Homo sapiens: one gene and its partners. The protein of the gene in region 7 interacts with the protein of the main gene of each other region in a pairwise test. Each region holds a gene or a part of one and is shown on either strand. Other genes may lie near its edges. The genes, in order: REPS1, USP25, WNK1, MYBPC3, SYNM, DYSF and FLNC.

The links.
Region 1: the proteins of FLNC (region 7) and REPS1 interact in a two-hybrid assay, tested with the Homo sapiens proteins (one large-scale study listed by BioGRID and IntAct).
Region 2: the proteins of FLNC (region 7) and USP25 interact in a two-hybrid assay, tested with the Homo sapiens proteins (one study listed by BioGRID).
Region 3: the proteins of FLNC (region 7) and WNK1 interact in a two-hybrid assay, tested with the Homo sapiens proteins (one large-scale study listed by BioGRID).
Region 4: the proteins of FLNC (region 7) and MYBPC3 interact in a two-hybrid assay, tested with the Homo sapiens proteins (one study listed by IntAct).
Region 5: the proteins of FLNC (region 7) and SYNM interact in a two-hybrid assay, tested with the Homo sapiens proteins (one study listed by IntAct).
Region 6: the proteins of FLNC (region 7) and DYSF interact in a two-hybrid assay, tested with the Homo sapiens proteins (one large-scale study listed by BioGRID and IntAct).

The regions. Positions count from the first base shown.
Region 1 is NC_000006.12:138,946,316-138,950,535, reverse strand, and holds part of REPS1 (ralBP1-associated Eps domain-containing protein 1), read left to right. Parts: intron 1-2,622; coding exon 2,623-2,746; intron 2,747-4,220. UniProt on the Homo sapiens protein: May coordinate the cellular actions of activated EGF receptors and Ral-GTPases.
Region 2 is NC_000021.9:15,823,595-15,827,814, forward strand, and holds part of USP25 (ubiquitin carboxyl-terminal hydrolase 25), read left to right. Parts: intron 1-444; coding exon 445-572; intron 573-1,371; coding exon 1,372-1,467; intron 1,468-2,609; coding exon 2,610-2,771; intron 2,772-3,382; coding exon 3,383-3,609; intron 3,610-4,220. UniProt on the Homo sapiens protein: Deubiquitinating enzyme that hydrolyzes ubiquitin moieties conjugated to substrates and thus, functions in various biological processes including inflammation and immune response.
Region 3 is NC_000012.12:880,887-885,106, reverse strand, and holds part of WNK1 (serine/threonine-protein kinase WNK1), read right to left. Parts: coding exon 4,108-4,220; intron 3,416-4,107; coding exon 3,318-3,415; intron 3,197-3,317; coding exon 3,034-3,196; intron 2,165-3,033; coding exon 2,048-2,164; intron 1,713-2,047; coding exon 1,539-1,712; intron 1,334-1,538; coding exon 1,276-1,333; intron 987-1,275; coding exon 864-986; intron 459-863; coding exon 1-458. UniProt on the Homo sapiens protein: Serine/threonine-protein kinase component of the WNK1-SPAK/OSR1 kinase cascade, which acts as a key regulator of blood pressure and regulatory volume increase by promoting ion influx.
Region 4 is NC_000011.10:47,339,023-47,342,702, reverse strand, and holds part of MYBPC3 (myosin-binding protein C, cardiac-type), read left to right. Parts: coding exon 1-125; intron 126-546; coding exon 547-712; intron 713-1,458; coding exon 1,459-1,565; intron 1,566-1,670; coding exon 1,671-1,700; intron 1,701-2,912; coding exon 2,913-3,052; intron 3,053-3,298; coding exon 3,299-3,379; intron 3,380-3,680. UniProt on the Homo sapiens protein: Thick filament-associated protein located in the crossbridge region of vertebrate striated muscle a bands. In vitro it binds MHC, F-actin and native thin filaments, and modifies the activity of actin-activated myosin ATPase.
Region 5 is NC_000015.10:99,125,306-99,129,525, forward strand, and holds part of SYNM (synemin), read left to right. Parts: intron 1-1,416; coding exon 1,417-1,487; intron 1,488-4,061; coding exon 4,062-4,220. UniProt on the Homo sapiens protein: Type-VI intermediate filament (IF) which plays an important cytoskeletal role within the muscle cell cytoskeleton.
Region 6 is NC_000002.12:71,511,699-71,515,794, reverse strand, and holds part of DYSF (dysferlin), read right to left. Parts: intron 3,989-4,096; coding exon 3,874-3,988; intron 2,556-3,873; coding exon 2,463-2,555; intron 2,080-2,462; coding exon 1,874-2,079; intron 173-1,873; coding exon 44-172; intron 1-43. UniProt on the Homo sapiens protein: Key calcium ion sensor involved in the Ca(2+)-triggered synaptic vesicle-plasma membrane fusion.
Region 7 is NC_000007.14:128,843,906-128,847,473, forward strand, and holds part of FLNC (filamin-C), read left to right. Parts: coding exon 1-8; intron 9-98; coding exon 99-361; intron 362-752; coding exon 753-1,350; intron 1,351-2,084; coding exon 2,085-2,258; intron 2,259-2,395; coding exon 2,396-2,558; intron 2,559-2,839; coding exon 2,840-3,000; intron 3,001-3,568.

The DNA of each region.
Region 1 (4,220 bases), on a different chromosome or scaffold from region 7:
GAGAAAAGATGAGTTTTTAAATAAATGGTTAACTTATTCTTTTTTTTTGCGGGGGGAGACAGAGTCTTGCTCTGTTGCCCAGGCTTGAGTGAAGTAAAACCATCATAGCTTACTGCAGCCTTGAACTCCTAGGCAAAAGTGATCCTCCCACTTCAGCCTCCTGAGTAGTTGGGACTATAGGCATGTGCCACCACATCCAGTTAATTTTTAACTAAATTTTTTTTCGTATAGATGAGATCTCACCATGTTGCCAGGGCTGGTCTTGAACTCCTGGCCTCAAGCAGTCCTCCTACCTTGGCCTCCCAGAGTGTTGCAATTACAGGCATGAACCACTGCTCCTGGCCTCAATAGTTAACTATTGAGGAGGATCAAAAGGATATCTGATTTGTTTCTCATTCCAAAATAAATTCCAGTTTGGTCAGACTTGTATATTTTCAATATTAATCATAAACATTCTAGAAGAAAACATGTATAAAGACCTTTTTTCTAAGTCTAGCAAACCCAAAAGTCCTAAAGGGGAAATGACAAGCTTGTATAAAAATTGGAAAATTCTGTATCACCAAAACAGCTTTTTTGGAAAAAACAGATAAACTAGAAAACAACATGTGCAATATGATCTGGTTTCTGCCTAAGTCATCAGCTCCATCTGCTGCATTCCCTCCTCCCCATCAATTCTACACACACTTACAGCTACACTCTGGTCTTTCCTTCCTGAGGATGCTCAGTAAATAGTCATTGAATAAATGAATTAATTCCATGACAGTTTGCAGGTCAATATGTATAATATAATAAAACCTTTTTTTTTTTTATGAGATGGAGTTTCAGTCTGTCACCCAGTCTGGAGGGCAGTGGCATGATCTCGGCTCACTGCAACCTCCATCTCCCGAGTTCAAATGATCCTCTCACCTCAGCCCCCCGAGTACTTAGAATTACCAGTGCGCACCACCACACCTGGCTAACTTTTGTATTTTTAGTAGACATGGGTTTCACCGTGTTGGCCAGACTGGTCTTGAACTCTTGATCCCAAGTAATCTGCCCTCCTTGGCCTCCCAAAGTGCTGTGATTACAGGCATGAGCCACTACCCCTGGCCACAATAAAACTTCTTAAAATGAGTAAAGAAGATTAACAGTCCATTTAAAGTTGCCAGAGAACAAGTTGGGCAAGTCAGGAAAAGAAATGCAAATGGCTAACAAATATAAAACTTTTAATAAATACCAATTAAAACAGCATTGAGATTCTGTTTCCCTTCTTGAACACTACCTCCTCATTTCTAACCATTTCCCTGGTGTCTTCCCAAAATGTCAACAAACCATACTGTGATCTCCTTTTAGGTCTTCCCTCTGTCTAGCATATACCTGGCATATGTTAGTTGCATTGTTATATAAACAAAAGTATTTAAGATATGTAATGAACCTCTAAGAGGCGTCAAGTGGGCAGAAGAGTAGAGGATTGGGGCTGCATGACCTTGCCTTTTTAAACTCCCCTTTTCCTCATAGTTCCCTTGATGGTGTTAACCTGCCTGTTTATTCTCTTTGCCCTTTTACATTTCTTCAGAAGGACATGCTCCTTAGTGGCAGGAACAGGAACTTCTTCCAGTGCTGGTCAGCCAGCAAAAATGACTCTTTTTTGTGTATGTAAATAAATGGCTGTTATTGTTGTGATACAATTGCTTAATCATTAATAGGTCCTTTTTTTGAAGTCCTGTGAATAGTTTTATTCAGACTTAATACCACAGCATCTCAGATACCTTATCTTCCTTTGAGTGTTATGGAAAAATAGACTAAAACTGCTCTCTCTATACAAAAGTTTGTGTTATTTGAAAAGATACAACAGGCATGCCTAGTGTTTATTTTAAGATAAGATTATAATATCTGCATAGTAGAAACCTCCAGCTTTTAGAGTTATGATTTTGTAATCTGAAATCCTATTTTTTGAGTCTAATATTTACTTGTGCTAGCAAGTCTAGAAATACTTGTTGAAAGACTGGAATGATTAATGTAGATCCTTGAACACTTTCATGCTCTAAAAAAGACAAATTTTGTTTGTTTTAAAGAAGAGTAGTGTAGCCATATTAAACACATTTGGAAAATAAGAGGGAAAACCCGACTCAATCTCATCTGAAAAAATTGTGATAGACTTTTAAAAAATAGTTTCCAAATTTGTATTTATGTGGTTAAAATTAGGTATCTTGCCTTTCTTCCCCACTTGATAAATCCTTAGTATTTTTCCATGTTGTTATATCATTTAAAGACCGTCACTTTAAATGGCTGCATAATAGTCTCTTAGTCACATGGTCCTATTGTATGTGCAGTGCTTATGAATAAGAGTGGGTGGTACGTTGTTTCTTTAAAAATGTGACTCATAACAAAAATTTATTCTAAGAAAATTGCTAATCATATGGATTTTGATAAATAGGAGAATGATGACCTTATTGCAAAGCAGTGACTTTTTGTTTGTAAACATATGAACCTGAAACTTGAGGAAGTTGGTTGTCAGTTGTGAGTATTATACCATCTATTAGATAGATATTTTGAGACGTTACAAACAAGTTGGGTAGCTGCTTATTTTTGAAGGGAGATTTTTGTTGTGAATCTTAATGTTAACATTATGTTATTTTATAGATCATGGAGCTTTGTGGTGCAACAAGACTTGGTTATTTTGGAAGAAGTCAGTTCTACATTGCTTTGAAACTTGTAGCTGTTGCCCAGTCTGGTTTCCCTTTAAGAGTGGAAAGTATAAATACAGGTAAATATAGAGTACACTAGTAACCGAAAGAAAATAGGCTTCTATTACAAATGAAGTCAAGTCAATAGAACTCTTGTGTCTTTCTGATCTTATAGTGGCATTTGTGACCTTGAGTGAAGTGTCGTGACTTTATTCCCACTACCTTGCATTTCTCACTTGAAAATACTAGAAAAATATGTCTGACCTGTATTACGGCATAGTATATGTACTTCATCTGTATTTGACTATATGTACTGTTCAAATGGCAATTTTTTAAGAATTAATTTACCAAAAGTTGTTTAGAAATATTTTAGGCGAATAGTTTTATTAAGGTAAATGATAAATTACAGCGACCATCTTCATGTATAGCGTCCCTGTGTTCTTCATTTCCAATAAAACAACATTATACTTTGTATTTTTGTTTGTTTGTTTGTTTGGGAAGGCTGTGGAGGCTTCAGTTGAAATTAAGAAGTAACAGTTAACCTAAACTTTTTGATCGATAAGAGACAATATTAAAATATTGGCAGACTAAAATCTAGTTATAGACATCTGACCACATTACAAGTTTGTATTAGTCCATTTTAACACTGCTATAAAGAAATCCCTGAGACTGGGTAATGTATAAACAAGAGAGGTTTAATTGACTCACTTCTGCATAGCTCGGGAGGCCACAGGAAACCTACAATCGTGGCAGAACGTAAATGGAAAGCAAGGCACATCTTATGTGGCCACAGGAGAGAGAGAGAGAGAGAGAGAGAGAGAGAGAGAGAGAGAGCAAGGGGGAATAGCCACAGACATTTAAACCATCAGATCTCATGAGAACTTGCTCACTATCACAAGAGCAGCATGGGGGAACCGCCCCCATGATCTAATCACCTCCCATGTGGGAATTACAATTCAAGATGAGATTTGGGTGGGAACACAGAGTCAAACCATATCGAAGTGTTACATCAGATAATTTGTTTTTCAAGTATTTAGAGGCTTGTTGATGTGAAAGAAGATAGAAATTCTATAAAGAAAGGCACTTAAATGCAGAGGGTTCTTTCATTTTCATAGAGTAAAGGGGAAAGAGAAAAATTAAGATTTTAAAAATAATCTGTACAGAAAAATTTCTGTAAAATTCTGTAAATATCAGAATTTGTAGAAATAGTTTTAAGTACCAGTTTAGTTTATTGGTCGGTAGAGGTTTTCATTGTGGACCTCTAGTTTGCCACACATCATTCTTCTAGTGTTGGGAGTTTACATTCTTTTCAGGTAATTTTGAATTCTTTTACATGTATATTGAATAAGCTTAATAGTTTCCTTCCTTCATGTGGAGGTTCTAAACAGAGACGAAAGTAATCATGTAATGGAGGTAAGTACGCTTTCCTCTGAAATGATTTTGTAGCTGTATTTTTTCTGGTCTAAAAGTATCACTTATTTACCTGCAAACAGTTTCTCAGTCCTTCATCTTTCTCCTCTATTTAAAATTGAATGTAGAATATCTGGCTGTAGG
Region 2 (4,220 bases), on a different chromosome or scaffold from region 7:
CGATTTATGATATAAATTTTTTTTTGAGTACTCCCTCTCATAAGTTATTTTATCACAGGATTTTGATGCTTTGGTTAAGTATAAGTGCCATTCAACATCACGTTGAAGAAGACAGAGAAGACTTGAGCTACTAAGTCATGGTTTTAACCAGTGTCTTTTTCTTTGGGCTAGAAATTCTAATGTAAAGAATTATTTTCGAAGGATAGTTGTGAGATTTCTTTTTTTCCTGATCATATATTATACCCACTCTTGGAATTTTCAAGAGGTGTGGAAAACTTTTAGAAAGAGGTTGAGTTTTAACTAAACTGTGTACCCAGTTACTTGTCAGGTCCGCATTGTGGTGATACATATAACAATGTCAGTGCCCACATCCTGTGCCTAAGATTGCAGTGAAGAAAACAAAGGTGGTATTAAAGTTTTTGTTATTGTTTTATTTCCTTTCAGCATTGGTTTACTGAATTACCACCTGTGTTAACATTTGAATTGTCAAGATTTGAATTTAATCAGGCATTGGGAAGACCAGAAAAAATTCACAACAAATTAGAATTTCCCCAAGTTTTATATTTGGACAGGTATGGTTTGATATACTGCATGACTTAGTTTGAAACAGTTTAGTAAGGGAGAAAATATTGTTTAGAGGAAAATTCTGCATAATTTTCTTAGAATTAATTTCTACTTTTGCATAATATACCTAATACCATTTGTCAAGGTAGATGAAATTTACTTTGTATTAGAAAAGTATAGTTTTTGGGAATAATGTTATAAGGAAATTTAAAAAAGATGAATTTTGTAATCTTAAAATTCAGAATTTTAAAAAATACCATTTTGTATTATCTACCTTACATCTTATACAATTTTGAATGAATTGATGCTTTGTGGTGATGTCTGTACTTAATATTGTATCTATCTATCTTTCTGTCTTTCTTTCTGTCTCTCTGTCTTCCTGTCTTTCTGTCTTCCTGTTTTCCTGTCTTTCTTTCTTTTGTTTTTTTCTGTCTGTCTTTCTGTCTATCTTTCTGTCTTTCCTTCTTTTTTGTTTTGAGACAGAGTCTTGCTCTGTCGCCCAGGCTGGAGTGCAGTGGTGCGATCTTGGCTCACTGCAAACACCATCTCCTGGGTTCAAATGATTCTCCTGTCTCAGCTTCCCGAGTAGCTGGGATTACAGACACCCACCATCGTGGCTGGCTAATTTTTGTATTTTAGTAGAGACGAGATTTCACCATGTTGGCCAGGCTGGTCTTGAACTCCTGACCTCAGGTGATCCTCCCGCCTTGGCGTCCCAGAGTGGTAGGCCGGGTACGCTGGCATCTGGCCATATTGCATCTACTTTCATGATATTCGGAAATGCTAATGATTACCTTTTTCTGATAGATACATGCACAGAAACAGAGAAATAACAAGAATTAAGAGGGAAGAGATCAAGAGACTGAAAGATTACCTCACGGTATTACAACAAAGGCTAGAAAGGTATTTTAACTTTTATGAAATTAGGAGATAATTATCAGAAACCATGTATTTGGTGACTAGATTTTTAATTTCAAATTTGCTTTGAGTGATTTATAATTTTAGGAGTAGTTAATATTGTGTGAATAGTTTTGAGTTTTGCTTGAAACTAAAAATCTATAGTAGACTTTAAAAAATTATTCTAGTGTTTAAAATTAAATATCTCATTGTCAACAGGTAATGTTCCTACTGCTGAAAATAGATACAAAGTTAAATGAATATAGTTTTGACCTTCCTTTTTGCATGAAACTAAAGATTACTCTTGAGATTTTCATTAAAATGAATGGTATCTGAGTTTTTCTCCTTAAAACAGGATACAAACTCAGCTGCCTACCAAGTCTTCTCAGCAGCTTCGTAAAGGAGGAAATTGTGTCAGGTGTAAGATGGTATGTGCCGGGAGCCTAGAGAGCAATCTGTGTGTACAGGGAATGAATGCCATTCCATACCAGTGGATGGTACCATGTATGAGTATGGCCTCACTGTTGTCTATTGATTTGGATCATTTCTAAAAGACGTCAGAATCTGGACTGAGAAATGTTCTACAGGCCAGACAGAAATCTAAAGGCTGAAATGTCACAAGTCATTTCAGTTTGCAAACCCCAATCTGCTCTGCATTCCCCTATTTTAGGAATTTTCAAATTAGTAGTCTAAAACTTCTTACATCAAATAGTATATTGTATTTTAATGATTTTTATTCTTAAAAAGTATGAATAATCATATTGAAACATGATTAGTGGTAAAAGATAGGAGGATAGTACACATCACTGTCTTGATCATGAGACCAGATGCCAGATCTAAAAATAAAAACAGTCTCAGGAGATGTCAGTTTTCATCTTCCTATTGAGTTACAATTTAGAACAGCATTTACAGATTATAACAGTATATACTCACATTCAGTCCCAATCGGCCTTGGTTTCCTGTCTTTGGGGAACTTTTAATGTTTTTCTTAAGTGTATATTCAGTTTTACCATCTTCGTTTTAAAGCAAATGAATTTTATTGCTGAGGAAGTTTTATTGAAGTATCGTATCACGTTTTATAATAATAATAAAGGCCCAAATATGCTGTATATAGAAATAAAAGCATTTGTACATTTTATGATTAACAGATATTTAAGCTATGGTTCCGGTCCCAAACGATTCCCCTTGGTAGATGTTCTTCAGTATGCATTGGAATTTGCCTCAAGTAAACCTGTTTGCACTTCTCCTGTTGACGATATTGACGCTAGTTCCCCACCTAGTGGTTCCATACCATCACAGACATTACCAAGGTAAAAAGTAATCCTGATGCAAGAGACAGTTGTTACCTTTATTACACAATAATGTAACTGCTGCCTTTAAAGACAGTTTCTATAAAATGTATGCTTTGATTTACTTCAGTGAACTCCTAAGAGTAGATTCACTTAGAAGACTGTATGTCCTCTGGGAGTTTTTTTATTATTTCAGTAGATTTTATGGTTATGGATTAAAATTTTAATCACATTTTTTTTCAGTTCAGAATTATACTTTAGCATGTTTTGGTATGTACATATATAAGATTCAGCATTTTATGATCCATAAAAATAGTACTATCAAATTAGAATTTGTTTCTGTAATGTAAGCTGATAAGCCAGGGAAAATAATATCACCATGCGTAAGATTTTCTTGTTTTTTAGAAATAAATATGATTAAGCTGTTTTAACTCTAAAGCTACAACTTCATCTTATAATAATTTAGTTCTTATGTATTAAAAATCTCATTTGGATGTTAGATCAATCCACATATTTCTTTAAGATTTTTTCTTTTGAATTACAAGCCAATTTAATACTGTGGGTTTGGCACGATCTTTGTCAAGAGTTTCAGCTTGAAAGGTTAATAAGAAATACTCTATGCTTTGATACAGCACAACAGAACAACAGGGAGCCCTATCTTCAGAACTGCCAAGCACATCACCTTCATCAGTTGCTGCCATTTCATCGAGATCAGTAATACACAAACCATTTACTCAGTCCCGGATACCTCCAGATTTGCCCATGCATCCGGCACCAAGGCACATAACGGAGGAAGAACTTTCTGTGCTGGAAAGTTGTTTACATCGCTGGAGGACAGAAATAGAAAATGACACCAGAGGTAAGAAGTGTCTCATAGCATGGTTACTGTCACCTCAGATGGATATGTGTAATGTTAATATTGAGAAGGGAAATCACGTCTGGATTTTATATTTAAATATTATAGTCATTTTTCTTTTCCAGAAAGGGTTTTAAGATAAACTAGTTTGGCTCCCCATTTTTATAATCTCAATATCAGGTTCACAGGGACCAAAAGATTTTCCCTGGATTGCTTAGCTGATTAATGACATAGCAGATGGCCTGATTTTCTAGTTTGCTGCTCTAAATTTATATCAAACTGGTATTCACAGTTACTCCATTGGAGAAATGTCATACAATATCAATGTTTGTACATATCAATTAGGTACTAAATCTAAGTTTGCACAGGGAGTTCCGGTGATTAAAAAATTTTCTTTGGGCTTAAGAATTAGAAATGTGAATTTTAATTTTTAATAGCTCTAACAGATTTATGAGTATCTATGATCCCATTACTAGTCTGTAACAGAGTTTTTACTGGCATGCAGCAAAATAAGAAAAATAAGGACAGTGCTCTGGGTGGGGTGTGTGCACTTGTGTGCGTGTGCGTGTGTGTGTGTGTGTGTGTGTGTGTGTGTGTGTGTGTGTCAAGTTGCC
Region 3 (4,220 bases), on a different chromosome or scaffold from region 7:
GGGGACTTGAAGTGACGGGGATGTAGTAGATATTGAGACAACTGCAGGTATTGTGATACTTGAAACTACGCTGGAAAGTACTGGTGATTCAGACACAGGTGGTATGGGGAGACCACCTGAAGTTACCACACCTGTGCTGGTGGCAACTCCAGCAATCCCCTCTTCAGTGGGCACTGTAACCTCAGACTGAATTACTGATGTGGAAATGTCATTAGGAGGGCTGCTTGTTGCAGGGACTGGTGCTGTGGCTGCTGCTGTGGTTGGGACTCCAGCAATGCTACTTAAGAAAGGAGGTACTACTGGAAATGTTGGTCCTGTATGACTAAAGTTTGGAGGTGCTGTGTTGGGTCCTTCTGTCATTTGGGCACGTCTAAGTTCAGAAAAGGCCTGTTGTAGACTAAGGGATGATGCAGAGTGAGACAAGTTCATTCCAGGGCTCTGAGCTGTAGAGGCAGCAACTGCAAAGGAATACAAAAAGATAAGAATCAGCTGATTTTAAAAGGATGGATTCAAAAGATTGTCTGCTAGCCTAAGTCAGCTCCTATAAATATCTGTTTTTGATAAAAAATATGGAGTAATCTTAAAACATAGACAACAGTACTAAGTGCAGAAATAAACACATACTACAATATCTATTATACAGACTATATCTTGGTATGGCCGTGCTTCTTGGCTTTTTCTGTAATTCTCTGTATTCTTCATCTATTTCCCTCTCCCATATGTTTATCTGTTGGTTATAACTTCAGTTTTCTATTCTTTTTTATTATCTGTGTCATCATAAATTACTGCTTTATGATTAAGCTTTCAACATAGCAGAGGCACTGTAGAATTTACATAACAATGTGGCAGAATCAATCCCTTACCTGTATCTGTTATTTCACTGGGGAAAACTTTTGATTCTCGTAATCGGCTTTCTGGCACAGGACTCACTATAAACCGCCTTCCCGCAGAATGAACAACTTGAGTTAAAGAACTGGTAGGAATGCCTGGTCAAAAACAAACAAACAAACGTAACTTAATAGCATTATTATTATAAATATTGTTAGACTTCATTATTGGCACATACAACTGCTTTTTTTGAGGCACGGTCTCATTCTCTCACCCAGGCTGGAGTGCAGTGGCGCGATCTCAGCTCACTGCAACCTCCGCCTCCTGGGTTCAAGCGATTCTCGTGCCTCGGCCTCCTGAGTAGCTGGGACTACAGAAGCCTGCCACCACCCTCGGCTAATGGCTTCTTAAGTCAAAGGTAAAAACAAGGAAAGAAAATAAATTCACCTATTTGCTGTGGCATGGAAGACGCAGGAATTGGTTGTTTGAACTCTCCTTCCAATTTCTACAACAAACAAAAGTGATTAAATACATTCTCAAATGCAATCTCAATGACTAGGCAAAGCAAACTGCCACATGTGAAGAGAACATAAAAGTTTGTTGTCGGTCATGGGTGTCAGGTGATATCACTGGACATTTTGCATAGCAAATTTAGAACTATGAAAATATTTTAAATCAACAAAGTTTCACTATGGGAGTGGTGAACCTACCTGAGAACCTGAAAAGCCATAGTCATCCTTTCCTTGTAGACTCTCCAATCCCTGATCACCCTCTGGTTCCACACTGACATCCTCACTGAGCATTTCATCAGCTTTTTCAATAATTTCTCGCACTTGATCCACAAACGACTCTCTCTCTATTGCTAGAATAAAGTCATTGTTCACCTGTAAAAGAAATGTGATGTCAGTCTAATTAGTGTCATTTCTCAAACTTTATGTCACTTTTATGACTTCTGTCCTATCTGCATACTTACCTATATTTTTATTTATTTTGTACTCAAGTTAGCTCTTCTCTTTTTAAGAACTTCAATATCTAGTTAGACATAGCCTAGACAAAAACATCACTAAATCACAGGTTGGGTGTGATAGTTTTATTCACATTGAAGTAAATGCATAACTTTAAAAAAACATGGATTATAAAATATGGCATATTTGCCTAGAGCAATGGCTATTAAGATCAAGTACTAAGGAAAAACCTAGAACTCCAAATGCAGACGTACCATAATTGTTGCTATCTCCTCGGGGTTGTCACCATCTAGGTCAAATTTGAATGTAACCATTTTCCTATTATGAGTCTCTAATTGACATTCTACTACTCGGTCTCCTTTATTTGAAACCTAAAAAGAAAAAAGGTACATCATCTCCAAAGACCATATTCAGCTTTATTACTGAATTTCAGAAAAGCAATGCAGATTAGCACTTGACTTTATGTCTAAGGAAGCATAGTGTTATCGCTGTTCCTTGGAGCACTAGTACTTTGTCTCTTAAACTGGTAGCAAGAAAAATCTTTGAGAAGACGTTAGCCTTTGAGCTACTTACTAAAACTCTCTATTCTTTTTCTAAAAGATAAGTAGTGCTTTATCATAGAAATATGGAATGTAAGAATATCATTTGGCTAATTATAAGATCCTATACATTCATCAATTCATCTAAGCCTTAAGAAATATTTAAATGATATTAACTGCTGGCCCTATCATAGCTTTATGAACTACCTTTTCATTTTTCTAAAAATGTGATATTTAAGTCAAAGAGACTGTGGGCATGAAATGAGAAGAGTACTATATAAATTATCTGGCTGGGTGCCTGTAATCCCAGTGGTTTGGGAGGCTGAGGCAGGTGAGTCACCTGAGGTCAGGAGTTTGAAACCAGCCTGACCAATATGGTGAAACCCTGTCTCTACTAAAAATACAAAAACTAGCCGTGCGTGGTGGCACGTGTCTGTAGTCCCAGCTACTTGGGAGGCTGAGGCAGGAGAATCGCTTGAACCCAGGAGGCACTGCAATCACAGTGAGAAGAGATCATGCCACTGCACTCCAGCCTGGGCGACAGAGCGAGACTCCGTCTAAAAAAAAAAAAAATTATCTGTCACACACAGATAGTTATCTTTATTTTATGAAGTGAGTGGTTTGGATTTGATGACCTCTAAAATCTTTTTCAGTGTCAAATTCCTTTAACAACATGAAACTCACAAATTAGGAATACTTACATTCAAAATTCTTAATTTTGGGCGTGAAGTTTTTTCATGTCGAGAGCGACTCCTTACAGATTTTCGGTAATGCCGTTTTGTAGTTCTTCCTTCATGCCTTCCACTGGAAGATGGGACGTTCTCATTGCCATCACTCATACCTGAAGCAACATCTGAATGTGCACTTTGAAATTTAAAAAGAAAAAAAAGTGCAGTTTATAATATGAGATTTAAAGGTCTGACAGTTTGGCGTTTCATACCGTCTTATTTACCAGTCAAGGAAGGAGAATTCTAGTTTTACGTACCTGTCTACAGAGGAAGCCAAAGTGGTCGGCTGGGTAGCTTGGGTCTGTGCTACTGCAACTGGCTCTGCAGGAGCAACCTGAGAGACTCCCTGAGTACTCTGTGAATCGAAAAGATAACTCAAATCTCGGTAGTAATAGATTTATCATTCACTATCCCCAATAATCTACTTATTTTTTTCCTTATCCCTCCCCACTACGTCCTAGAAGCACTAAATTTACTAGTAAATTCTCAATATTCAGCATCTAGAGATAATGGTCTTAAAATTCCAAAGGAAGTTGCTAAAGCTAGTCTCTGGTATAGACTGCATGGTATGAGGTCAGCCAACATATCTGCTAGGCAGTGTGAACCTACAACTTGCCATGCAGCCAGCATCTTACCAAGAGTGTGCAATAGCGCAGACAGAGCATAGTACAAAGATGAATTCAGATCTTCTCCTAGCAGGGCAAAAATGATTGCTGAGAGCACAGGAGGGTAAGATACTCTTATGACTGCCAATGGAAAAAGTTTGTGAAAGGACAAGAATAATGGCTAAAGTACTAGCTAGAGAAGTGAAGTGCTAATAGGGTTCATCTTCTCCAAGGCACACTCACTTCCCAACAGAACAGCCAGTGGAAACAAGGACCCCACATTGGCATTTCATTCTGCTGTAAGAAAAAGTCATGCAGAAGTTAGTTTGACATGGTCTCCAAATAAGTTCTAAACCAGGGGAGCCTGTTTCTTTCTCCTTTATCATTGTTGTCCAATTACATATATACGTTTTACATATAAACATGCAGTAATTCTATTTACCTCCAAAACTGCTTGCTGGGAGGATGTAGTGGGGGCTTGTGCTAAACTCCCTCCTGGCTGGGACACTTGAACCTGTCCTCCTACACCACCCATAGGAACTAAAAGATTTGATT
Region 4 (3,680 bases), on a different chromosome or scaffold from region 7:
ATACCGGTTCAAGAAGGACGGGCAGAGACACCACCTGATCATCAACGAGGCCATGCTGGAGGACGCGGGGCACTATGCACTGTGCACTAGCGGGGGCCAGGCGCTGGCTGAGCTCATTGTGCAGGGTGAGCCTGGCTGGGGGGGCACATGAGGCTTTAGGGCTTGGACCCCTCAGCCCCCACCCCACCTAGCCCTGTAGGGGAGCAGGCAAACCTGGGCTCAAGGCCTCTGTGACCTTGGGCCTTTGACAGCCTAAACCTCATCCTTCTCATCTCTAAAATGACGATGCTGAGGTGACCGCTCCAGAGGGTACTGAGAGGGTCATACGGGCCTGGTGAGCATCACCACCCCTCAGACACTTGAGGTTCCTTATGTGCACTGCACCATCACAGGCAAACATGGCACACACAGGCACACGTGTTTTCACATGCCCACATGCACCCAGACACGTGCGCACCAGCGCCCATGGGCCCACACGCCCTCCACAGGGATTCACGCCACACCCACACACCCTCCCGAGCTCAATGGCTCTGCCCTGCCCTGCAGAAAAGAAGCTGGAGGTGTACCAGAGCATCGCAGACCTGATGGTGGGCGCAAAGGACCAGGCGGTGTTCAAATGTGAGGTCTCAGATGAGAATGTTCGGGGTGTGTGGCTGAAGAATGGGAAGGAGCTGGTGCCCGACAGCCGCATAAAGGTGTCCCACATCGGGCGGTGAGTGTGCAGGGCAGGTGGATGGGACAGGTGGAGACTGAGATGGAGACAGAGAGAGACACAGGGAGAAACAGAGAGAGAGAGATAAAGACAGGTGGACAGAGAGGCAGATGCACAGAGACAGGACAGAGACTGAGACAGAGACCCACAGAGAGGGAGAAACAGACAGACCCAAAAAGACAAAGAGACAGAAAGACAGAAATAGTTCTATAGAGACAGAAAGATATGCACAGGGAGGCACACACATAGGAGAGTTCGTCAGAGACAGAGAAGAACAGAGGGACAGAGACAAAGAGGCAGCAGGGAGAGACACGGACGGGGTCGAGCGCTCCCCAGCACCCTCCCCCAGCTTGTGACCAGGGCAGGGCAGGAGGCCACCAAGGAGGCCGGCTCTGGCCAGAGGCCCTCACTGCCTCTCCCGCCCTCTTGCTCATCCCTGGAGCAACTGGGCTGGCCGTGCTGGGCCCAAGTTCACAGAGATTAATGAGACCCAGCCCCTGCCCAGTCTCCAAGGGCCCAGCCAAGGAGATGCTTTGATGTAGAAATCACTTTTACGCTGCCTACCTCTGAAGGCACATTAAAAAGCTGGAAAATTAGATAATATAGAAAAAAAAAGGCATTTTTAAAAATCAGAATACCAACAAGCCAGGACAAGGTGAGGGCCTCCTGGGACCCTGGCTGGGGTATCTGGCAAGGCCAGGGGTGTGTGGCCCAGTGGGGTCCCCTGAGCCACTGCTCCCCTGCAGGGTCCACAAACTGACCATTGACGACGTCACACCTGCCGACGAGGCTGACTACAGCTTTGTGCCCGAGGGCTTCGCCTGCAACCTGTCAGCCAAGCTCCACTTCATGGGTGAGCCTGCTCCAGGGTAGGGTGGGTCGGGGCAGTGGGGCCAGGAGCCCCTGTCACTGGGCCCTGCCTTTGCCCCCGTGCTACTTGCTCTTCCTTCTCTTGCAGAGGTCAAGATTGACTTCGTACCCAGGCAGGGTAAGTCTTGGGGCCCCTGAGTCTTGGTTCTGCTCACTTTCCCGCAACCCACCCACGCAGGCCTCCCCTCCACTCACAGAGGGAAGAGCAAGGATCAAAAGTGGGGGTCCTGGGGCCCAGCTTCAGCTTTGCCACTCATGACCATGGGTCAATTATAATCTCTGTGAGCCTCAGTTTCCTCTTCTCTAAAATGGGAACCCTGATAGTGCCACCTCATAGGATAGTTATAAAGATGAGGTGACATGATGTATCAGACCTGTCAAGTGCTGTCACATGTGTGACTGTTATTATTACATCTTTTCTTCTTCTTCCTTTTTTTTTATTTTTATTTTTTTTGAGACGGAGTCTCCCTCTGTCGCCCACGCTGGAGAGAAGTGGCGCGATCTCGGCTCACTGCAAGCTCCGCCTCCCAGGTTCACACCACTCTCCTGCCTCAGCCTCCTGAGTAGCTGGGACTACAGGCGCCCGCCACCATGCCCAGCTAATTATTTTTTGTATTTTTAGTAGAGACGGGGTTTCACCATGTTAGCCAGGATGGTTTCGATCTCCTGATCTCATGATCTGCCTGCCTCGGCCTCCCAAAGTGCTGGGATTACAGGCGTGAGCCACTGCGTCCAGACTGCTTTGCTTTGTTTAACTGAGGGCAGATTCCTGATTTATTTGGCCAGGGAACCTTTTTAATGTGTGCATGTGTGCGTGCATGTGTGCGCGCGTGTGTGTGTGTGCATGTGTCTGTGTGTGTATGTATATATGTGTGTCTGTGTCTGTGTGTGTGCGTGTATGTATGTGTATTTGTGTCTGTGTGCATGTGTGTGTCTGTGTGTGCATGTGTGTATGTGTATGTGTGTCTGTGTGTATGTGTATATGCGTGTGTGTGTGTGTATTGTGTGTGTGTGTATGTGTGTGGCAAGACACTGATGTTCCCCCAGTTTTCAAAATGCTATGCTAGGTGACCTGACCTGAATATTACAAGCCTCCCAGCCAACGTCCTGGGGTGATGGGAATGTTCCAGATCTTGGTTGGATTAATAATTGCATGGGTGTATTCATCTGTCAGAACTCAGCCTACTGTCAGATCTGAGCATAAACTATACCTCAATACAAATCTAAAAAACCAATAACCAGGGGCCCAGGCTCTTGAGCAGCCCCGCCCCAGTGACCTGTGCTCCTCCTGGCTCTCCCGTTTCTCTGAACTACATTGTGTCTTCTGCAGAACCTCCCAAGATCCACCTGGACTGCCCAGGCCGCATACCAGACACCATTGTGGTTGTAGCTGGAAATAAGCTACGTCTGGACGTCCCTATCTCTGGGGACCCTGCTCCCACTGTGATCTGGCAGAAGGCTATCACGCAGGTACTGTGGGTCCCTCCTCAGTCTCCCCATCTATAAGATGGGTGTGTGGAACCAGCCAAGTGCTAGGACCTGCTGCACACCCCACCCACATGTGCACGCCCTGCTGTTGGCTACCCCATGGGAGAGACTGGTCAGGGGGCAGGCAAGGTGGGCAGTGTGGGTCAGGGGGTGGAAGAAGCAGCAGAGGGGCGCTTCCAGGCTGAGTCAGCTCCTCTGCTCCCTACTTCCCTCCTGCCCTGTTCCCAGGGGAATAAGGCCCCAGCCAGGCCAGCCCCAGATGCCCCAGAGGACACAGGTGACAGCGATGAGTGGGTGTTTGACAAGAAGGTGAGTGAGACTGAGGTCAGGAGGAGGCTCGTTTGTCTTTCATCACTTTCTACCTACGTGGTGCCGAGCCCTTGGCGAGGTCTCCATGGAGGTGCCACACTTGGCCGGGTGTGTTGCTGCCCCCAGCAGGGTCCCTGTGGGGCCCTCACACCTCAGGCAGAGGGTCTCTGTGAAGTGTGCTGATGGCCATCACAAGGATGTGGACACCCTCTCATTGCCAGGAAGCCCTCATGACTGGGCTGCTCCCTGGCTCCCTTCATCCTAAGCTGACCTTGACCTTGACCTTGTGCTCCCTCTCAAC
Region 5 (4,220 bases), on a different chromosome or scaffold from region 7:
CCTCAGAACTTTCTCAGCAGTGAAAGCTGTTTGCGTTCCTGGAACCTACAATGCTTGGTCATGAGGGCGTGGGATTAATGGGTTGGTGTCCTGTTTCCTGGCCTCTGCCCTGAGCGAAGGGCTGGGGCTCTGGACTCGGGCCTCTGCACATGCCCCGTCCACACACAAGCATCCCGCAGTCACTGCGCCGGGGCAGGCCCGCTGTGTGCGCCTTCGCGAGAGTGCCTCATGCCTCCTTTGCTTTCTTCCAGCTGCTCACAGGGCTCTCGTGTTCATGGGGCTCACCATGTTTCAACAGATGGAAATACAACTCAGTGCAGTTTGTCCAAGCTGCCAAGTCCCTGCTCGGGTGTGGGCACCCTGCTCCGTTTTTGTGCCCAGCTCTCAGCCATAAGATTGGCATTTCTCAGTGGGCTCTTGTTCTGGATGCCTTTTGCCGTGTGCAGTGTATTTCTTGGAACCGGAGTTAGTGACTTCACATGTTGCTCTAGCAACTGAGAAACTGTTGCACCCAGAGCTGCCAGCAGCCCAAGGGGTCTTCGCGAGTGACTGGCTGACAGGCATCCCGGTGCTAAGCCCCTCGCCAGCAGGCTGGGTCTGCTGGGACCACTCTCCTCAGCTCTGGGATCTGAAGCAGTAGACGTGAACAACCTAATGAAACTTCTATAATTTTAGAACTTTGGCGCAGACATAGTCAAAGAAATCACCTTGTTGGGTACTTCTCACCATTTTATTAAAGGAGATAACAGGATGCCAATTTGGATGAAGTGAGGCCCCTGGGGGTGGCATGGGGAGGGGCTACTGACGGGGGGCGCTTTAGCACTACCTTTTCCGTCTGCCTGCCTTCTACTTCTTTTTGTCGTCTCCAAGGTGACCCCCTGGAATGCAGTTTGAAACCACAGATGCAGTCTGGCTGCCTTATAAGTGTCAGTCCCTGCCGTCTCCTGGTCAGCCCTCTGCAAGCTGCCCCCACCAGCTGTGACTCCAGGAAGAACCCAGTGGGGGGTGTAGCTGCTCTGGGGCCCTCTAGCCTGGGGCCCACATCTCTCCAGTGCCCCCTTGCTCCTGCTCCTCTTCACCCTGGACTGAGAAAGCTTTCTAGAAGGGCTTGGCTCGCCAGTACTGCCGAAGCCCTGGCCTGGTCATTTTGTTCACTGGGCTAGTAGGGGTTGAGCGCCATGCTGGCTGCCAGGGATGTGGCGGTGAGCAGAGCAGGTGGCCTGGCCCAGGTCTGCTGAGGCTGGTGGGTGGGCTTGCCAGCCCTATGGTGCAGCCCTGCCCAAGTCTCCTCTTCAGGTAGAAGTCCTAAAACAGGTGACACTATGGTCATTGGCCGCATACCACGATACGTTTTATTAGAGGCACTTCTTACTCTTTCGTTTCCTAATGAATTATGTTTGTAAATTATTTTTACAGGGCCTTATTGGAAGGAGAAAGTAATCCAGAGATAGTGATCTGGGCTGAGCACGTTGAAAACATGCCGTCAGGTAAGTAAAAGCTAATGACTTGACTTAGCTTTAGGCATCTGAACTGTTTATTCTGTGGCTAGATAGTAAAGCACCATCATCGGGAAGAACGGGTTAGATATGGTGTTTAGATAACAGGAGTTCATCTCTCATTTAAGTACCAAATAGATTTTAGTTTAGTGTGACATAATTTCAATTATGTGAATGAGAATGTTTGGGAAGGTGCTTGATAAACTTGGTCCCTCTCTCGACAGGATGCAGGAGCGGAAGGGGCTAATGGCACTGGGCAGTGTGAGGGCGAGCAGGAGTGCACCTGAACTTGTGTTTCACACCCCTGGAAGGGACACTCCTTCCATTTCCAGACCAAGGGGTTATGGTTGTTACACCTGTAGAGGGAGGTATGGCCTTGGATGGCAGGCAGGCAGCACTCTGGAACCTGCTACCCTAACAGGAAGAGAGATGGGAATAGTTACATTGTTTACACCACCCTAGGTTGTTGTGAGCAGCTCAGGAAAATGTGTCCTGGTGCCTTGAAGACTACCTTATTGAGGCCAAGAGCCTCAGGACAGGGCCCATCCTTCCTATGGCTGCAGAACTGACATAAGATCATTAATGTTCATTAGAAAGATCCTAAGAAACTGAGGGATAACTTGTTTTTTAACCTTTTAAAGCCCTATAGAATCTTGAAGAGCTCTGGCTAAGCAAGTGTCGATTAAATTACGTATAGAATGTTGAGTTCACACCTTAGGCAGCAGCATGGTTTTAGTCTTCATTGTTTCTTTTAGGCAACTCATGGATTTGACATGTCACTGGGTTGAGAAGAATATTTGGGTTCTAGTCATCTATAACTGGAAGGGATCTGGTCTTAGACAACATGCAGCAAATTTTCTTTCTAATTTTGAGAGTAAGTTTGAAAAAAGCAAAGGTGTTCATGGAAGGGTAGGCATTGGTCAACCTGCCTGGCATCAGTTAACGTGTGACATCTATAAAACAAGAATTAACTCCCCAGATTTCAAGGTTTACTTAGTTACCTACATTTTTAACCTGTGGATACCTAAGTTTGGACATCCATCATGTAACCTAGAGAGAGGGGAGAAGGAAGAAAAGGGCCCAGGAGCTCCGAGGAAGACCAACAGTCTAAGCCAGGGCCTTGCTCAAATTTTCCCAGTTGTGATTTTGGGGCCGAGGGAGAGCACACAGAGGGGCTAACAGCTGTTGCTGTTAACTTGCTTCATTCATTCATTCATTCATTCATTCATTCATTATTTTTCAAGCTTCTTGAAGGAAATAGAGACTTAATATTTGTAAACTAAATTTATTCTGGCAATTACATATTATGCCAAAAGCTTTAGAATAAAAATTACTAGTTGGGAATTTTTATTAGACGTTGAGCTTCTAGATAGTTCTGTTCTGTTGAGTAAATATACAGATAAGTTCCTAAGTAGTGAACTTATCAATACTTGTTAGTGTGCTTGTGTTTCTTTTATAATATTGCATAAAATAATGTTGGCCGCTTGCCCGCTAGCCGGTGGACCTAAACCCAGTCTGTAATCTTCCATGTTTCTTGTTGAATCTTAACTGTAAATGAGATGGTCCCTGCACTATTGCCTGGGGGTTCATCTTCTGGGACTTCTCAGTTGGATCAGTAGGATCAGTTGACCTGAAAAGAGGAGTCTTGTAGAAAATGTCCTGGCCTGGTCTCTTTCCTGTATCTTGGGATCTGTGCAAAGGAGGCCTCTGGCCTTGGCTCCATAAGGGAGAGAGAAAGCCCTGTCCCCGCTGAGCCAGCTGGGGTGTGGGTAGACACCAGGGGCACTCTCGGGGTGGACGGTGCTCCTGGCTGCGTTCTAACCACCAGCTGCCATTCCTAAAGAGCGGTTTCCCCTGCTGGGGTGTGGACACCCCAAAGGGTAGCACTGTCTGCAAACAGCCTGGAGCAAAGCTGGAAGCCCTGAGGACTGCCTCCCAACTTCAGGATCATGACACTAAGACAGACCGGGGTGTTTCTGCACTGGCTCCTTTTCAGATAAGTGTTAAATGTAAAATAAAAGATCAGAAAGCTTAAAGAAGTTAAATTCTTTAATACTTGTTGGCCCAATATGGAAATCAGTGAAACAGAAGAGTATATTAAATAGTGGAGGATAATGCTATTTGGTGTTTAATAATGACACACTTTGTAATTACAGAGCTCTTCTCTGCTACAGTAAATTAAACTTACCTCAAAAAGCAGAAATTAATGATTTCAAAATATAAGATTGTGAAATTTCAGCCACAAAAACGAGCACCTCTGACCTCTCTGGGATATGCATTGTGCTTTATGATTAATGTTAAGATGAGTGAGTATTTTAATATCAGTAACTGGAGAAACGTGTTAGGCTGAAGTATTTGTAGTGCTACATTTTATTGTAACAGGATTTTGTAAACTGCCAAAAAATAATTTGGGCACCAAATATAACTTATCTTTATAATGAGCTTTCTGTGGTAACAGTGTATATTTATTATGATGGAATGGGATTTGGCCTGCAACAATGCTTGTAGATGGAAAAGGGTAATGATGACTGTCATTTTAATGAATGCTTTGTTCAATTTCTACAGAATTCAGAAACAAATCCTATCACTATACCGACTCACTACTACAGAGGGAAAATGAAAGGAATCTATTTTCAAGGCAGAAAGCACCTTTGGCAAGTTTCAATCACAGCTCGGCACTGTATTCTAACCTGTCAGGGCACCGTGGATCTCAGACGGGCACAT
Region 6 (4,096 bases), on a different chromosome or scaffold from region 7:
AAGGCCCACCAAGGTTCTGGCCCTCATGCCCCATGTCTCCCACCTCATTGAAGAGTGGGCTGTTTCCCTTGTGGATCCGCGTCCGCTTGGTCTGCCCTGCAGCGGTAACCTTGACCACAGGCTTGATGTTCACCCCCGGCAGCTGGCGCCCCTCGATCACCTGGACCCTGATCTGAAAGCCAGAAGGAGGAAAGAGCAGGAGGAAGGGGGAAGAGTTAAGGACCACCCACCATCCACCCCAAGAGTCAGAAATCTCAGGGACCATCTCACCACTGGCTTCTTGGGGAAAGTATTAAAAAGGAATTAGGAAGAGCATTATACGAACTATCATATTTTCCCACCAAGGCCCCTTACATCTATAAAATTCCACAGCTCCATAGAAGAGCTGCCAGGCTGCCCCTCGTCGGCTACCCACATTAAACCCCAGGGGTGGGCAGATACAGCCCCCATTTATGTCATTCAGCCATTGGCACAAGCCCCACCCGAGACCCCATTGATACTGGCATTTTTAAGTGGCTTGAATATTCTTTATTGACAATTCCCTCAGAGGTCGAACTTACACAGTGAAGTGACCCCAGAAATAGTCTTTATTCTTTATAAGATGCAATGCTTTCTTACATTCTGAGAAATAAATTAAGAATTTTTGCCATTGAGCTGTAAGTAAATGAAGACTTCAAGAACGTCTATGCTTCCAAATATTAGGTAAGATATTTTAAAATATGAAATTTTACAATATTAAGGCAATTCTATGGAAAAAAATAAGATATTTACTGGCTCCACTTTAGAATCAACTGTTATTTACTGACCAACTGTTTTTTTTTTTGTAAATTGCATAATATGGGAGGATATATTCTTAATAGCAATGGGAAGATGGATGAGTGATTTTTAATCTCCTCATTTTAATATATTTTCCAAAGTGTCTAAAATAAACATATGGTATTTCCATAAAGAGAACAAAGGCAATATGAACATGTTTGGGGAATAGTAGTATGGGGGCTAGAATTTTGTCTTTTGGGGCAAACAGTGGTTAGAGCTAGGACTTCTGCTTAAATTACCATGATTTAGAATAGAAATATATTTTTGCAATTTGTTGCACTTAGTATTATAAATAGAGATTTAAGATTCTTGCTTTTAACCTTAAAAGTAGTTGTAAAGAGTTAAATATCACTGTGTGACTACATCAAAATAGAAAATTCTTTTGAAAAGAAAAAAAAAATAGGCAAAGGACCAAAGTTAAAAGCAAATAAAATGGGATGGATTTTTGGATAAAAATGTGTCAAAGTGTTCATATTAATAGCTTTTATTCTGTGATGAGCTTGAACAAATTCAAATTCCACATGACTCTCAGAAAAATCCATGGCTATATGCAGGGGGATAGATATAAGGAGAAAAAAAAGATGTTAGACAGAGCTTCTTTGAGGTAAGGATCTTGTTAAAATGCAGATTCTGGTAGAGCAGGTCTGAGTAGACTCTGCATGTCTAACAAGTATACAGGTGATGCGGAAGGTGCTGGACACAGACCACACCTGAATAGCCAGGAGCTTGCTGGTTGGATATACCCTGGTTAGAAAAATCAGGTTTTTCTCTGATCAGAGATGCAAAGACATGCTGAATCTCTGCAGTGACTTTTTTTTTTTTTTTTTTTTTAAGCGCAAAACCACAGGTCTCGGCAGAAGCTTATTCTGTGGATGTAAGATGTGAACTCCCTGTTTGGCATCTGCCCAGGCCCAGGGAAACTACAGATTCCCCCACAGGAGGGCCCTGAGGATCCCACACACATCTTCCCCTGAAGCTGGACAAACCAGGCAGGTGCCTGGCACCCGCAGCTGATGGCTGAAGAGGAGCCTGGGGTCAGAGAAAGCCCGTTCATCACCTGGAAATCCTGCGGTTTGTCTGACAGCAGCTTTCTAGATGTAGGCGCACTTCGCTTTCTTTTGATCCCGGGGTAGTGGGGCGGAGGACGTGAAGGTAGTTTCCTTGGGGTGGTGGGAGCCCCCGGGCCTCCGCTTTGATCCAGGAATGGCTCCGCCTCATCTCCAGTGAGTCCCTGGTCCTCTGTGTCTTCCTCTCCTCCTGTGTCTAAGAGGAGAGGGCCCTAATGAGGCCTGGATCCCTCTGGCCCTGCCCCTGCCCCTGCCCCTGGGACCCAGCCCAGGGGGCAGAAGATCCAAAAGGCATGGGCCCTAAGACTCATCCCCTCTTCCTCTCCCTCCTCCCTCCCCATCAGTGAGCCAGGATGGATAAGGTAGAAAGAAGAGGAGCTTCCAGCAGCTGAAACTTGAGGGCAGTCAGTCCAGTTAGTCAACAGGAAGAAAACAGAATGGCCCTAGCCCTCCCACCCGCCAAGTCCTGCAGGAGGAGTCCTCTGCCACCTGGCCCCGCTCCAGCAAGCTGACCATGGCAGCTAGTGAGACAGTTACAGGGAGGGTCTGGGATCAGGACAGTCCTGGCCCGTGTCTCACCCGTGGGGGCCGGCCACTTCTTTCCAGAGTATCTCGTGTCCATGGTGCTGTCACTGAGCAGGGACCAAGTCTCGGCCCGGCTCTGTCCCCCGCCTGTCTTGTGGGCAGGGCATAACCCCGGGAGGGGAGGGAGGAGGTTGGGGTGAAGGAAACCAACCTACTGCACCTCCATCCCCAACCCTGCCTTCCCCGCCCACCCCAGCCTGGTGCAAAGCTCAGAAATAGCTGTGGAGCCCAGTGGCACCTGTTCCTTCTCACCACCTCCCAGGCGTGTCTGGAAGCCTCCACTGATTGGCCTGCACCTAACTCTGTCAGATCCACCTCAACACAGTCCCAGAGTATTCGGACCCTCCCTGCTCCCCACCCTCTGCCACCACGGGCACCTCTCCTTCCTCCCCTGAGCCCACTCCAGCCACACAGCTCAGGATTACCAGGTTACTCCAGTCCAGACTGATCTCCCATCTCTAAGCTCGGACAGTGCTGAGCCCCAACAAGACAGCTCTGCTCTGCCGACCTCACCACAGAGCCCTGTGCTGGGCTGGCCCCAGGTCAGGCACAGGGCACACTCAATTGAGACATGGGCTGCTCCGGTTTTAATGCTGTGCTTGCTTCTAGCTCCCTTCACTAAGAGAAAAACTCTAGAATCTTTCCCATGGGCAAGTGCCCACTAGCCCGTCTATGTAGCTTCCTCCCAACCCCAGCAGGCTGGACCACATGGAGGCTCCCACACCCAGGCCCACCAGTGGAGAGCCAGCCACCCCGGGCTGGGTCCTCGCTTGACCAGCCTGGCAGAACCAAGTGAAGAGAGCTGAGACAGGCACAGCACTTAGCTAACTTAGTCTGCTCCCTTCACAAATAATCTATGGGCCCAGAGAGGGAAAGTAATCAGCCCAAAGTCACACAGAGACTCAGTGTCAAAGGCAGGACTGGAACCCTGAAGTTCAGTTCAGGGCTCTTTCAAGAAAAAAAACTAGTTCTTTTGTCACACACCATCACCAAAGGCCTGCTGGGTGCTGAGGTAGGGAAACATTCGGTTCTGGGGAGTTTGTGGGGCCTCAGGTATCACCTGGGTCAGACCCCATCCCCACACACCCTTCTTGGAACTGCACAGCTCAGAACACCCAGCCTGGGCTCAGCCCCGTCCCCAGGCAGCTGGGGCTTGGAGGCACCCTCACATTACTCCCTGCACCGCCCAAGGGAACGTGCCTGCTGCCCCTTCTTTCTGCACAGCAGAAGGCAGCCCTCAGGACTTCCCACCCACTGCACCCTCTTCTTTCCAGGCCTGGGCAGCCTCCAACCTGGGGAGGGCAGCAAAGGCTGGGAAGCCTCGCTGCAGCTCCCAGCCCCCAGGCTCAAGTGCCACTGCCGGCCTTCTTGCTGGGGCCCAGCCAGGCCAACGTGGGCTACCCACCTGCCACTACATCCAGGTCAGGCAGAGTCGGGGAGGGCTCCAGAGGAGTAGGGGGCGGGAACAGGGGCACAGCTCCAGGCAGCGGTGTGTAGGACACCTGCAGGACCAGCGAGGCCTGGAAGAGATGAGACGTGGGGGACAGGTTGGTGCGCTGGCCTCGGACCACTGCCCTCCAGTATCTTCCCTGTTTCTGGCATCCCTCCACCAAGGAATATGGCTCTGA
Region 7 (3,568 bases):
TAATAGCAGTAAGTGGGGCAAGAGCCACCCTGGGAGTGAGGGGTATTCGGGTAGGGTGGACCGGAGTCTCCTCATGGTGTCACTTGCCCTCCACGCAGAGGTGGCTGTGGGACAGGAACAAGCATTCTCTGTGAACACACGAGGGGCTGGCGGTCAGGGCCAACTGGATGTGCGGATGACTTCGCCCTCTCGCCGGCCCATCCCCTGCAAGCTGGAGCCAGGCGGTGGAGCGGAAGCCCAGGCTGTGCGCTACATGCCCCCGGAGGAGGGGCCCTACAAGGTGGATATCACCTACGATGGTCACCCGGTGCCTGGCAGCCCGTTTGCTGTGGAGGGTGTCCTGCCCCCTGATCCCTCCAAGGTGAGGAGATAGGAGCTGGTTGGGGCTGGGAGTTGGGGACTTGTTGGGAAGATAGATGAGTCATAGGGGGCAGAGGCCAGAGGGACTTATGTGCCTGGAGTGGGCACAGCCAAGGGTGTGGGGCTGAGGCCAGCCCCACCCCACCACCTGCCTTGGAGACAACTTAGCTATTAAGAGCCTGGCCTTGGAGTCACACCTGGGCTTGAATCCCAGGTCCACTAACTGGGGCAAATTGCTTCATCTCGCTGCCTCAATGTCATCACCTGGGATTGTTATAAGCACTCAGTCCACAGTAGCAGCCACAGTTGGAGGTGATGAGTTGGGTGGGGGCCATGAAGGCTGGGATGAGGAGGCCAGGTGCAGGGAACCCACAACCTGCCTCTTCCCCTAGGTCTGTGCTTATGGCCCGGGTCTCAAGGGTGGACTGGTAGGCACCCCCGCGCCATTCTCCATCGACACCAAGGGGGCTGGCACAGGTGGCCTGGGGCTGACCGTAGAGGGCCCCTGCGAGGCCAAGATCGAGTGCCAGGACAATGGTGATGGCTCATGTGCTGTCAGCTACCTGCCCACGGAGCCTGGCGAGTACACCATCAACATCCTGTTTGCTGAGGCCCACATCCCTGGCTCGCCCTTCAAAGCCACCATTCGGCCTGTGTTTGACCCGAGCAAGGTGCGGGCCAGTGGACCGGGCCTGGAGCGCGGCAAGGTCGGTGAGGCAGCCACCTTCACTGTGGACTGCTCAGAGGCAGGCGAGGCGGAGCTGACCATTGAGATCCTGTCGGATGCCGGGGTCAAGGCCGAGGTGCTGATCCACAACAACGCGGATGGCACCTACCACATCACCTACAGCCCTGCCTTCCCTGGCACCTACACCATTACCATCAAGTATGGCGGGCATCCCGTGCCCAAATTCCCCACCCGTGTCCATGTGCAGCCTGCGGTCGATACCAGTGGCGTCAAGGTCTCAGGGCCTGGTGTTGAGCCACACGGTGAGTGGACAGGAGGAGCCAAGAAAGGTCAAGTGGCAGGTGCAGGAGCTGGGTAGTCCGTGGGAGGGAGGGAAGAAGAGCTGAGAGCTGGAAGAGCAACCTGGGGTGAAGGGAGGGCTCTCGGAGCAGCCCCAGAGTCCTTACTGGCCCAGAAACCCCAGAGAAGGAGTGGAGGGGAAGACCGGGGGTGGAGATTGGCCTCTGCTCTTGTGGCAAAACTGCACCTGCCTCTGGGCGTTTTTCTGGAGAGATCTCTTCTTTCATGTGCTTAAGGGGTACCCTGATCCAAAAAGCTAAAACTCTGCTCTGGACGGGGGCACGGGGAAAGCTTTGGGGTAGAGGATGACAAGAGTCAGAAGACAGTAAGTGGGAATGGGCCATCTGCCAGGGGCCAGACCCTGGCTAGGCATGGGCCACGGCAGAGGGATGCAAGACCCAGGCCCACAGCCTGGTGGGTGACTCAAGTGAACAGAGAATGTCACTACATGGAGAAGGGAGTGAAGGCAGAGGCTGGAGCTCACAGAGGTGCAGGGGAGGGTGTGGGGCCCAGGCTCCGATTAGAGGAGCAGCCTGGGAGTTGGGGAGTGGGAGAGGAGGGGGAGAGGAGGGTGAGAGGAGGGGAAGAGGAGGGGAAGAGGAGAGGGAGAGGAGAGGGAAAGGAGGGGGAGAGGAGAGGGAGCATCTGTGTGAAGGCTGCCCCCACCCCTGCTGAACACGCCACCCCTGGGCTCCAGGTGTCCTGCGGGAGGTGACCACTGAGTTCACTGTGGATGCAAGATCCCTAACAGCCACAGGCGGCAACCACGTGACGGCTCGTGTGCTCAACCCCTCGGGGGCCAAGACAGACACCTATGTGACAGACAATGGGGACGGCACCTACCGAGTGCAGTACACCGCCTACGAGGAGGGTGAGGGCCGGTGGGCCAGGCTAGTGGGCAGGGCTGGGCAAGTGGGCAGGGCCGGGATCTGATGATATTGCCCTCGGGGCAGGAGGGGTGGTGGGGGCGCACACTCCCTGATTGATGCCCCTGTGGCTGGCTTCCAGGCGTGCATCTGGTGGAGGTCCTGTATGATGAGGTCGCTGTGCCCAAGAGCCCCTTCCGAGTGGGCGTGACCGAGGGCTGTGATCCCACCCGCGTCCGAGCCTTCGGGCCAGGCCTGGAGGGTGGCTTGGTCAACAAGGCCAACCGATTCACTGTGGAGACCAGGTATCCTCCCCCTTTGCTAGCCTAAATCTGTGACCACCCTTTCCCAGCCCCTGGCCCTCCTCGCTCATCCCTCTGCCTGGGCCTCAGCCCCACCCCATCCTCTCTCAGGGGTGAGGCAGGAGCAGACCCCCTCCAGGACCCCAGATTGGCCCCTGTAGCTCGTTTCTCCTCAGCTGGGTCCCCAGCGGCCTGCCCTCTTTCCTCCCTGTCCCCCCATTCAGCTACTCCCTCATCCTCACTCACTGGTCTTATGAAGCTGATGGGGGGATGTTATCTCTCAGGGGAGCGGGCACCGGGGGCCTTGGCCTAGCCATCGAGGGTCCCTCGGAAGCCAAGATGTCCTGCAAGGACAACAAGGATGGTAGCTGCACCGTGGAGTACATCCCCTTCACTCCTGGAGACTATGACGTCAACATCACCTTCGGGGGGCGGCCCATCCCAGGTGTGCAGAGAGAGTGGTCGGGGTCTCAGGGAAGACAAGGGAGGGTGCAGGATGCTCGCCCCACAAGGGGGAAACTGGAAGGAAGTTGGGTAAGAATGTTCATAGAGAGGACAGCCTAGAGTGGGTTGGGGCCGGAGCCCGGCCAGAGGGAGGACGTGGAGGAGGCAGGCAATGAGGGTTGATGTGACAGCCCCCCTAGTCAATCACAGGAACACACTCTGGCCTCCTAGCCCCTTGTCTGGAGCTCAAGACCTTGGCTTTGCAGGTCCACCACTCACTGTGTGTCCAGAAACTCAGACACAGTCCACTCCTCTTGGCGGCTCAGGCCAGCCTTGGGCCTTCTTGCACGCATCGTCTGCAGAACTCCCCTGCCCTCTGCAGACCCAGCTGCCCGGGCAGGTCATGTCTTCAAATATTGTATGACTTGGGACTGCTGAAATTGGAAATTTTTTCCCTTATCTAATTTCCCATCTTTTTATTATTTCAGCCACAGTGTCAGAAATACATTTCATTTTTGAAAACATTTTATTTTCACATTTTATTAATTTAGGAAGGCCTTCTCTTCCAG